Regions from separate parts of the Homo sapiens genome. Here region 1 is linked to region 2. The links come from fine-mapping of genetic effects on gene expression. A gene starts in region 2. The other region holds a variant in brackets. All regions are shown on one strand. Distances are from middle to middle.

Region 1 (5,365 bases), 27 kb before region 2:
TTATGTATTTTTTATACATATATATTATTGATCCTTTTAAATAATTTTAGTTTGAAAACCTTTTTTTTTTTTTTGAGATGGAGTCTCACTCTGTCGCCCAGGCTGGAGTGCAGTGGCGTGATCTTGGCTCACTGCAAGCTCTGCCTCCCGGGTTCAAGCAATTCTCTGCTTCAGCCGCCCAAGTAGCTGGAACTACATGTGCCTGCCACTATGCCCGGCTATTTTTTTTTTTTTTTTGTATTTTTAGTAGAGATGGGGTTTCACCATGTTAGCCAGGATGGTCTCGATTTCCTGACCTTGTGATCTGCCCGCCTTGGCCTCCCAAAGTGCTGGGATTACAGGCATGAGCCACCGCGCCCGGCCTGAAAACCTTTAAAAGCCACAGAAGAGGTGCAAGAACGATGCGGTCAGCTCCTATATACCCCTCTTCCAGAATCACCAGTGGGTAGTGTTTTTGCCACATTTGCCGCTTACTTTCTCTCCACATTTTTTTTTTCCCTTGAGACAGGGTCTCACTCTGTCGCCCAGGCTGGAGTGCAGTGGTGCAATCATGGCTCACTGCAGCCCTGACCTCCTGGGTTCAAGCGATCCTCCTGCCTCAGCCTCCCAAGTAGCTGGTACTACAGGCACATGCCCTCATGCCTGTCTAATTTTTTAAAAAAGTTTTGTAGACACAGGGTCTCACTATGTTGCCCAGGATAATCTCAAACTCCTGGGCTCAAGTGACCCTCGTGCCTTGGCCTTCTAAGGTGTTAGAATTACAGGCTTGAGCCAACGTGCCCGCCCCACATTTCTTTTTTTTTTTTTTTTTGAGACAAAGTCTCACACTGTCACCCGGGCTGGTGTGCAGTGGGGCGATCTTGACACGCTACAGCCTCCGCCTCCCAAGTTCAAGCGATTCTCCTGCCTCAGCCTCCCGAGTAGCTGGGACTACAGGCGTGCGCCACCACACTCAGCTAATTTTTGTATTTTTAGTAGAGATGGGGTTTCACTATGTTGGCCAGGCTGGTCTCGAACTCCTGACCTCGTGATCTGCCCACCTTGGCCTCCCTAAGTGCTGGGATTACAGGCATGAGCCACCGCGCCCAGCCCACATATCTTTTTTAAAGATCTGATGCAGATGGGTCCAAGTGTTAGCTAATGCTTATTAATTCTGGGTCTTGACGACACAGTTTTAAAAATCACCATTATTATGCTTCATGCTCCTCTGTACACAGAAAGCTCCTCCCCAGGCCTTGCTGCTCTCCATGCAGACACCAGCATGCTGAGCTACCGCTTGCCTCCTTGGCTGTCCCCAGAGTGGGCCCCCAGGAGCACTTTGCCCTGGACAGTGGCAGACCCTTGTCAGGATGGGGCACCCACCAGGGCTGGAGCTAGACTGGATGGGCAGCAGGAGATCTGGTTTCAATCTAAGTAAGCTCTGTGGCCTCCTGCCCCCGTGCCTCAGTCTCCCTACATGTATTAAGAGGGCTTTCCATGACATGGGCTCAAGGACCCTTCCAGATCCGAGGCTGTTTGGGGACCCCTTACCTGGGGCCGCAGGGAGGTGACGGGCAGGATCAGGGACTCTTCTGTGGCAGGTGCTGCCTCAAAGGTGGTGAGAAAGAACATGGTGGGCGCCAGGCTGGTGGAGGATTCCTCCATGGCTGCATCCAGCACCTGGGCTTCGGAGAGCTCTGCCTTCTTCATCAGGGAGCTGGGACCTCGGACCAAGGCTCGGCCTGAGACACAGGGTGGGGAGCACGGGGGCTATATCTGCTTGCCACCTCGTGGCAGTCTACAGTAGAACCCACGTTTTATGCTGCAAACTAGGAGGCAGCAGGCACTGTGTGACAAGCCCTTGGTTCAGCCCCCATTCCTGCTTCCTACCCTTCTTGGGAGGTTGGGGGATGGGAACTCGGAGGAAAATGTCTTGGAAGAACTTGCAGTGTCGCTGGGGAGACAGTCCAAGGATTCTCCCTGTAAAGCAACATTCCAGCAAGTCCAAGTCCAGATTGGCTGGGCGCAGCCAGATATGTAAGTATAACAAATAGGAACTAGTAGGATTAACCATGGAAGGCTTCCTGGAGGAGGTGAAGTTTGAGTAGGGAGAAATGTCATGAGGCTGAGAATCATTGCAGTGGCCTTTGAGGAAGCTGGGAGGTGGGAATCACTGCTTATCACACACAAGTGAGTGCATCCTG[T/G]GTGGTGACAATTAGTCATCACCCCATTAATGGAGCACCTGCTGTGTGCTGGGTCCCAGAGGAGCTGTGTCACAAGTGTTATTTCGTCTAACTACTGCAAGAGCTCTGGGAAGTGGGTGCTCCTTCAGTCTCATCTACAGGGAAGGAAACTGAAGCACAGAGAGGTTAGGTGACTCACGCAAGGATGCACAGCTCATGAGTAGCAGGGTCTGGATTCAGCTCCAGCAGGGCTGGAGTGCAGGGGCTCAATCTTGGCTCACTGCAACCTCTGCCTCCAGGGTTCAAGTGATTCTCCCACCTCAGCCTCCTGAGTAACTGGGATTACAGGCATGCGCCACCACACCTGGCTAATTTTTGTATTTTTGATAGAGATGGGGTTTCTCCATATTGCCCAGGTTGGTCTCCAACTCCTGATCTCAAGTGATCTGCCTGCCCAGCCTCCCAAAGTGCTGGGATTACAGGTGTGAGCCACCACGCCCAGCCTGGCCTGAGGTTTCACAGCCAGTCATTAGCAGAGCAGGGCCTAGCCCGCAAACCTTCTCCGTTCCCCACCTCCTCCTCACCATATCAACTCTCCCAGGAGGCCTGGCTGCAGCCCTGGAGCTGGCGGAGCCGGAGCCCAGCAGGACGGGTCCACACCCCACGCGTGCCCTCTAGCTGTCCTCAAAGGTCCCAGCATCCTCCCCTGAAAGCTGACACAGGTAACTCCAGGAGTGGGAGGCTGAAAGTCGAAGCCGGGGGACCCTGACTGACCTCTGCCCTCTTGGGGGGTTCTCAGGCCTCACAGGGAAGCCAGCCTCAGCTGTTTGCACGAGAAGGGGTGTTGAAGCTCCATTGCCTTCCTGCCAAAGAACCCTGCTGTCACCACTGCATTTGTGGCACTCGGCATGTCCCTAGAGGCAGTCGGGTCACATGGAGAGCTTAGAAGCCAAGTTCCCTGGCTTAGGGCCAGGCAAGGCTGGGAGGAGCCACCTGACTGGAGCTGAGGGGACATGTCTACTCCGAGACTGAATGGGCACGGGGAGGGGGAAGCCTGGGCCAGCAGGGGGCTAGCTAGCTCCCAGCGGATGTGGGGGAAACGTTAAGGAAGGTGGGAAGGGCTAGGGGAGCACTGAGACAAACAGGGCAGAGGCAGGAGCGGTAGGCAAGCGATGCCTCTCCTGGAGTCACCTGTGTCCAGGCTGGAGGACACTGAGTTGGCCTCAGCAGGTGGCTGAGATTAACCAGAACAATGACTGCTCATGGCCCTGCCAGCTGAGCTCCAAGCGCCCCACTAACCAAGTCTCTGCAACGACACTGAGGGTAGATGGGATGGGACCAGTCTCCTTGCTTTACAGAGGGGAAAACCGAGGCACAGAAAGAGAACTTGCCCAGGGCCACACCCTAGTGGTGGAGGCAGGACCTGATCTCAGGCAGACCTGGCTTCAGAGTCTAGGCTCTTAGCTCCTACCGGATGCGTCAGAGTCGAGTAAGAAATGTGCTTGGAGGGCGCTGAACTGTTCCATTTCTACTCAGAACTTAAAGTAGGAGAAATTTAGGTCAGATACAAGGTAGAACTTCCTGATTCAGGAGGATGATCTGTTGATAAGACAGATTATTATTATTATTTTTTGAGACGGAGTCTCGCTCTGTCACCCAGGCTGGAGTGCAGTGGCGCCATCTCAGCTCACTGCAAGCTCCGCCTCCTGGGTTCACACCATTCTCCTGCCTCAGCCTTCCAAGTAGCTGGGACTACAGGCGCCCACCATCGCGCCCGGCTAATTTTTTGTATTTTTAGTAGAGACGGGGTTTCACCGTGGTCTCGATCTCCTGATCTCATGATCCGCCCGCCTCGGCCTCCCAAAGTGCTGGGATTACAAGCGTGAGCCACGGCACCGGGCCGCGATAAGACAGATTGTATTGCAACACATCCCTCTCCTCTTCCCATGCCCCAACCCCAGGCCTCTCCCAGCCTCCTCCCCTTACCAGGTCCCTCTGGCTTCAGTGAGACCCCTCCTCTCCTCTGGACCTCATGCCCCTGACCCTTGCCTGCATCCTCTCCTGCTCCCCTCAGTCCATGGCAGGAATCACCCCCATCCCCACCCCTCGCAGCCCTCCAGCTACCTTGGTGCAGCCTCAACCTGTCCCTGCGTCTCTTGTGCTCCCTGCTGCGTTTCCTGGTCCTCTCCCAACCTGGAGGTCGGTTCTCCTTCTCGGGGTAGGGCAATGCCAGTCCCAGGAGCAGGTCCTTGTCCTGCAGCAGGCCTGCAGGACTCTGCTCAGGCAGCAGCCCCTCAGCCTCTGGCAGCCTGGAGGCCTGCCTGGTGGCGGTGACCACAGCCCCATCCTGGGCCTGGCTGGGCAGGCCTGGGCCCCACTCCTTCTTGCCCGGGCCCCGCCGGCGGTGGTGGCTGGCCTGAGGCGTCCACAGCGCTGGGCCTGGGAGGTCAATGTGATTCTCAGGGAGGTTCCGGGCAGGGGTCCCAGGTGCAAGGGCGCCTGCCAGGCTCAGCTCCAGGGGCAGCAGGAGGACGAGGAACAGCATGGGAGCGGTGTGGATGGCAGGCCCAGCCATTGGCTCCTCCCTGCAAGAAGAGCAACACCATGAATGCGCAGCCCCAGGCCTCTCTCTGCTGCCCCTCACTCAAATGATTAAAGCCCAGTTTTTCTCAACAGCCATAGAGGGACATTTTGCTCCCAGTGACATTTGGCAATGCCCGAAGACATATTTTAGTTGTCAAAACTGGGGAGTGCTACTGGCAGGTAGAGGTTGGAGCCCGTGGATGCTGCTAAACGCCCGACAATGCACAGGACAGCCCCCGAAACCAAGAATCATCCGGCCCAGAAAAACAACAGTACCGAGGCTGAGAACCCCCGGCTTAAATCATTTCAGCAGCATTCAAGTTCCAGATTAGTCCAGAATTCCTTTCTCTGCACAAACCTCTGCCCCTTACCAAGTCCCCTAGAGGGAACCGAGTCCCTCAGAGCTCAGAAATATGCCTCTGGCCCCTGAGACTTGACTCGGAGCCTAATTCCATACAAATGGAATAATAGCGTTTGAGCGCACGCTGTAGGCAGGACCCACGTTAAGTGCTTTGTGTGAATTCATGTCACTTCGCCCTTTCAAGAGCTCTCTGAAATGGCTCCTGTTATTTTCCCCATTTTTCTGAAGTGGCAATGAAGGCTCAGAGAGGTTAAGTCAC
Region 2 (5,320 bases):
AACCATCCATCATGCTGATGCGATTAAGATATGCAAAACCAGATGCTGAAGAGCGCATGGATGGAGTGTTGGCAGAGCTCCCCGGATGGGCCCATGCTGACTCGGCCCCCTGCCCCTGCCCCCGCCCCCATGGAACCTGAGGCCATCAGAGGTTTAGGGAACATCTATCTGGCCTGTTCATTTCACTAATGAGACTGAAGCCTTTTAGGGGTTTGGGGTCAGATGGGTTTGAATCCCTCCCCATCTGCTTCCTAACCCACCTTCCTTCTGTTTGTGATTGGATCTGAACCCAAGGCCCCAAACCCAGACTTTTTTTGTTTTTTTGAGATGGAGTTCTCGCTCTTGTTGCCCAGGCTGGAGTGCAATGGTGCGATCTTGGCTCACCACAACCTCCGCCTCCCGGGTTCAAGTGACTGTCCTGCCTCAGCCTCCTGAGTAGCTGGGATTACAGGCATGCGCCACCACACCTGGCTAATTTTGTATTTTTAGTAGAGATGGGGTTTCTCCATGTTGGTCAGGTTGATCTCAAACTCCTGACCTCAGGTGATCCACCAGCCTCAGCCTCCCAAAGTGCTGGGATTACAGGCGTGAGCCACCCACCGTGCCCAGCTGACGTTTTTTTTTAATTGCAATAATTTTTGGTTACATGGGTAAGTTATTTAGTGGTGACTGCTGAGATTTTGGTGCATCCATCACCTCAGCAGTGTACACTGTACCCAGTATGTAGTCTTTTGTCCCTCACCTTCCCACCCTTCCCTCACCTTCCCACCCTTCCTTCCCCCCGAGTCCCCAAAGTCCAATATATCATTCCTATGCCTTTGCATCCTCATAGGTTAACTCCCACTTACAAGTGAGAACATATGATATTTGCAAACCCAGATATTTTTATCCACAGGTTTCTAGTTGACAGGGTGGGTACTCCAGTGTCAAGAGCTGTTGGGACCTCAGTTTCCCCAAGGAAAAATGACAGTTGAGTTTATGTCCTCCAAGGTTTTTCTGACGTTCTTAGCTCTGTGTGTCAGGAGTTCTACGGGTGGCTCGTATTGTGTTTTCTCAGGGCAGAGGGCTGGGGCTGGGAGCTCATGGAGGGAGGGCCTGACTTGAGCCCCAATGCCCCTCACACTGTGTCCTGAAGGCCATCCCACAGGAGTCACTTGGCTCTCAGTTTCCCCACCCCAGGCCCCAGTCTGAAGGGCTCCTTTGCAAGGAGTTGCCCCCTATGACTGCCACTGCCTGTCACCAATGCAAAAGCTGCTTAAGCAGCCTCCAGAGAGGGAAAGGAAAGACCCTTGCTTTTCCCAAGTTCTGCAATGAGTCAGTCTCAAGGAGCCACGGAACTCTGTGTATAAGCCAGTGAGTTGCTTGGCCAGCTCTGTGTGGAAATGGCATGATGTGTGCAGGATCCCCATATCTTGAGAATGGTTGCTGTGCCCAGAATGTGCTGCCAAGTGCACCAGTTCCTAAAACAAAATCATCCATCCCTTTGGATGGATGATTTTACATCACAATTTTACAAAATGCATCGCATTTTTACAAAATGAAGATATTCTCTGGGAACAGTCCAAACCTCTGTGGTGATTCCCACACTTTGCTGGGCATCCGGGCCCCTGGGGAGCTTGTTAAAGGGCCAGTGCCCTGCTGTGCACCCCACCTCGATCAGGTTGCTCTAGGCAGCAGGGCAGCTGTGATTAATGGGCTCCTGGGGGATTCTGATGCAGATTTCCTAGGACTGCATTTGAAGAAATGTTTTGCTGACATTCCTAGCTTAATGGGTTACTTACAGGTTACTTTTTCTCTCCCCATTAGAAGTCTGGAAATGCAGGTTTGAAGGCATCAGGGGGCGGGGGGAGGGATCCAGGTCTTCTATAATGAGCTGTAAACGATAAACAAGTCTGGCTAGATCTGTGTCCAAACAGACGGATGGGACTAACAAGCTCTTACGTCCCTGGAGGTCACAGACAAAGTCCTCTTGGCTTCTGGTCCTGACTTGTTGCCCACTAACTCCGTAGCTGCTTCTCAGATCTTAGTTTTCTCACTTGTAAAATAAGGGGGCTGTAAATAAGTGGAAGCCCTGGTGTCAGAAGAGGCATCAGAGCTGGGTTTGTATTCCCACTGTGTGATTTTGGCGAATTAGAGAACGTTTCTGGGCCTGTTTAACCATCTGTAAAGTGGGGCTATAAAATGGAGACTTAGCTGCTAGGGTTAATGAGAGAATTAACGGAATCAGTGTTTGACACATAAGAAGTGCTCGATGTTAGTCATTATTTTTTATTATTTTAGTAATATCATCTCTGAGGGCCCTTACAGGACTTCCAGACCGAGTCCACGCCCCTGGGGGACTTGGGAGCAGTAAAATGTAGTGGCAGGAGGCACCTCGGCCATCGCCCACCCCACCAGCTGGGAGACTCGGGCAGGTTATTCACCCTTCTGCACCTCGCTTGACTTATCTGTATAAAGAGAACAGTCACAGTAACTGCCTCATGGAGTTACTCCCAGGACTGAGATAATCCACGGACACACTTAGCCCAGTGCCCAGCACTCGGCTGGAGCTCCAAAAAGGTCAGCTATTGTTATGAAGCGTAGGGCGGGGAGGGTTCATCCTCTTGGGCGGTCAGGCCAGGCTGCATTTAGGTACCCGGTGGGGGCGGAGCAGGGGCGACGCCGGTGCACGCCCTCTTTTTTTTATTTTTAAAATTTCACCCGGGCCTTGACAACCGGTACAATCCTGTCCTCCCCTGTTCCCGCCCCCGAGCCAGAGGATTCGCTTTTGCGTGGGCAGCTGCAGGGATGGTGACTCGGGCTAGCTCAGATGTGGCTGCCGTTAGTCCCCAGCTGCGCGCTCCCCCGTCCCTCCCCAGCCCTCTTCCGGCGCCTGCTAAAGCGAGAGAAATGCCCTCGGGGGAAGATATGTAGCGATCCAATGGAACGTGGAGATCAACGTTGTGTTTTCTTCGCGCCCACCCGAAGTTGAAGGGAGGTGGCGCGGCGGGTCTCAGCCCCTCCCGGACGCCGAGGCCCGGCCCCCGCCCCTCGGAGACCCGCCCCCGCATGCGGAACCGCCCTCTGCGAGGCCCGGTTTGGGCCGTGCGGGAATGGGCGTGGCCTGGGCGGGGCGGGCGCTAGGACCCACCGGAGCGCCGTGAACGTCACCGAGCGGCGCCGAGGCCCCGGGTTGAGCGGGAGGCGCGATCGGTCCGGTCGGTGGCTCCCCGCGGCGGGGCCGGGCCCGATCTCGGGCGGGAACCGAGCGCAGAGCCGGTACTGGGGGAGGGGAGAGGGGGCGGGATTCCCGCCGGGAGGGATCCGGCGTAGCAGGGGGCGGAGTCTTATTCCAACCCCGCTTCGCTTTCCGCATGTCCCGCTTTGCGCTCCCGGCCCTGGGCATCCCGCTGTTTCCCTCTGCGTCCGCGGCCCTGCCCTTTTCGGGGGCACAGCTGTGGTCTTTCCACCCCGCGAGACAGCGGGGCGAGGGGGCGCGGGCGGCCAGTGGATAGAGGCTGATGCCCCCAAGCACGGACGCCAGCGTGGGGGTGGAGGTTCTTCCAGCTGCCCTGAGCCTGTGCGAAGCGGGAGGTCCTTCCCCAGTTCCCACAGACTGTGGGGAGGGAAGAGACGGTGGAAGCGAGCGGGTTCTGGGCTCCTGGGTCTCTGGAACTACCCTCTGCCCTTGCCCCAACACTCAGGTAGCGGGAAGGATGACCACGCTCACACGACAAGACCTCAACTTTGGCCAAGGTAGGGAGGCTGGACCTGCGGGCCCGGGGGCGGGGGCGTCTGGGCCGGCGGGCTTCCTCGAGCGCGCCACCGGCTTGTGCCCCCCTGCAGTGGTGGCCGATGTGCTCTGCGAGTTCCTGGAGGTGGCTGTGCATCTCATCCTCTACGTGCGCGAGGTCTACCCCGTGGGCATCTTCCAGAAACGCAAGAAGTACAACGTGCCGGTCCAGGTGAGGCACGTCCCAGAACCACAGAGTGGGTACAGGGTGGACTTTTAAAAATTCTTTGGTCGGGCGCCGTGGCTCACGCCTGTAATCCTAGCACTTTGGGAGGCCGAGGCGGGCGGATCACCTGAGGTCAGGAGTTCGAGACCAGCCTGACAAACATGGTGAAACCCCGTCTCTACTAAAAATACAAAAATTAGCCGGGCGTGGTGGCCAAGGCCTGTAATCCCAGCTACTCAGGAGGCTGAGGCAGGAGAATCCCTTGAACCCAGGAGGCGGAGGTTGCAGTGAGCCGAAATTGTGCCACTGCATTCCAGCCTGGGTGACAAGAGCGAAACTCCGTCTCAAAAAAAAAAAAAAAAAAAAAAAAAAACCTCTTCCACTTCGGGCCAAGCCACCTCATTCCGCAGGGCCCTGCCCATGCCTTCCAATGCCTTCCAGTTCCAAAGTGGTGATGCCTACCCACCCCTCAGAAGAGAGTTCCCCTTGCCAGAAGTTAGGGACCAGGCCTGATAAGAGTTACCCCGGGGGTGGCCGGGCATGGTGGCTCACACCTGTAATCCCAGCACTTTGGGAGGCTGAGGCGGGCGAATCACAAGGTCAGGAGTTCAAGAAACCAGCCTGACCAACATGATGAGATCCTGTCTCTACTAAAAATACAAAAATTAGCCTGGTGTGGTGGTACGCGCCTGTAATCCCAGTTACTAGGGAGGCTGAGGCAGGAGACTCGCTTGAACCCGGGATGCAGAGGTTGAAGTAAGCCCAGATCGTGCCACTGCACTCCAGCCTGGGCGACAGAGCAAGACTATGTCTCCAAAAAAAAAAGTTACCCTGGGGGCATGGTGGCACTTTGAAGGAGCTCGTGAAGCTGGTGAACCTTGGTGTGAGGAGGGTATTTCCAAAAACCTCCAAATCTTCTCCCTACCATTTATCCTAAACTCAATGGGTTAAGGCTAAAAGGCAGACAAAGCAGTGTGCATCGCACTGTAGCTCCAGTCCCTAGAAGTGCCTGTCTCTGGAAGGCACTCAGGAAACATGAGAATAAGTGGTAGAAGCTCAAAGGACATCCAGGTGGTCCCCGCTTCAAGTCCCCACACCACCATTGTTTTCTCACTTCCAGTATGGTATTCAAGACATTACTTGAGGTAGTCAGCACTTTATTTTTTATTTTATATTTTATTTTATTTTATTTTTTGAGACTGAGTCTCGCTCTGTCGCCCTGGCTGGAGTGCAGTGGCGTGATCTTGGCTCACTGCAACCTCCACCTCCTGGGTTCAAGTGATTCTCCTGCCTCAGCCTCCCGAGTAGCTGGGATTACAGGCGTGTGCCACCACATCTGGCTAATTTTTGTATTTTTAGTAGAGACAAGGTTTCGCCGTGTT

Direction of the effects. Alleles are on the strand shown, and positions count from the first base shown. SD is a standard deviation of normalised expression in the study named.
As copies of G replace T in region 1, the expression in nucleus accumbens of the gene that starts at base 3,149 in region 2 goes up (small effect, 0.32 SD a copy in GTEx).

The links. PIP is the estimated chance that this variant, and not a neighbour inherited with it, causes the effect. A credible set is the group of variants that fine-mapping cannot tell apart.
Region 1: its variant is the best candidate, but not a certain one, in a credible set for the expression of MAD2L2 in nucleus accumbens (GTEx, PIP 0.73).

The regions. Positions count from the first base shown.
Region 1 is chr1:11,705,631-11,710,995 of GRCh38, reverse strand. It overlaps DRAXIN (dorsal inhibitory axon guidance protein), which reads right to left. Exons shown (of 7, transcript NM_198545.4): 2 at 4,287-4,747; 3 at 1,531-1,721. The coding sequence starts at 4,737. Among named protein-coding and RNA genes, the nearest start is that of DRAXIN, 17 kb to the right of the region's middle. The variant T/G (reference allele first, on the strand shown) is at 2,184.
Region 2 is chr1:11,678,977-11,684,296 of GRCh38, reverse strand. It overlaps MAD2L2 (mitotic arrest deficient 2 like 2), which reads left to right and starts at 3,149. Exons shown (of 9, transcript NM_006341.4): 1 at 3,149-3,258; 2 at 3,684-3,735; 3 at 3,826-3,944. The coding sequence starts at 3,696. RefSeq lists an enhancer at 603-1,184 and silencers at 2,808-3,327, 3,768-3,827.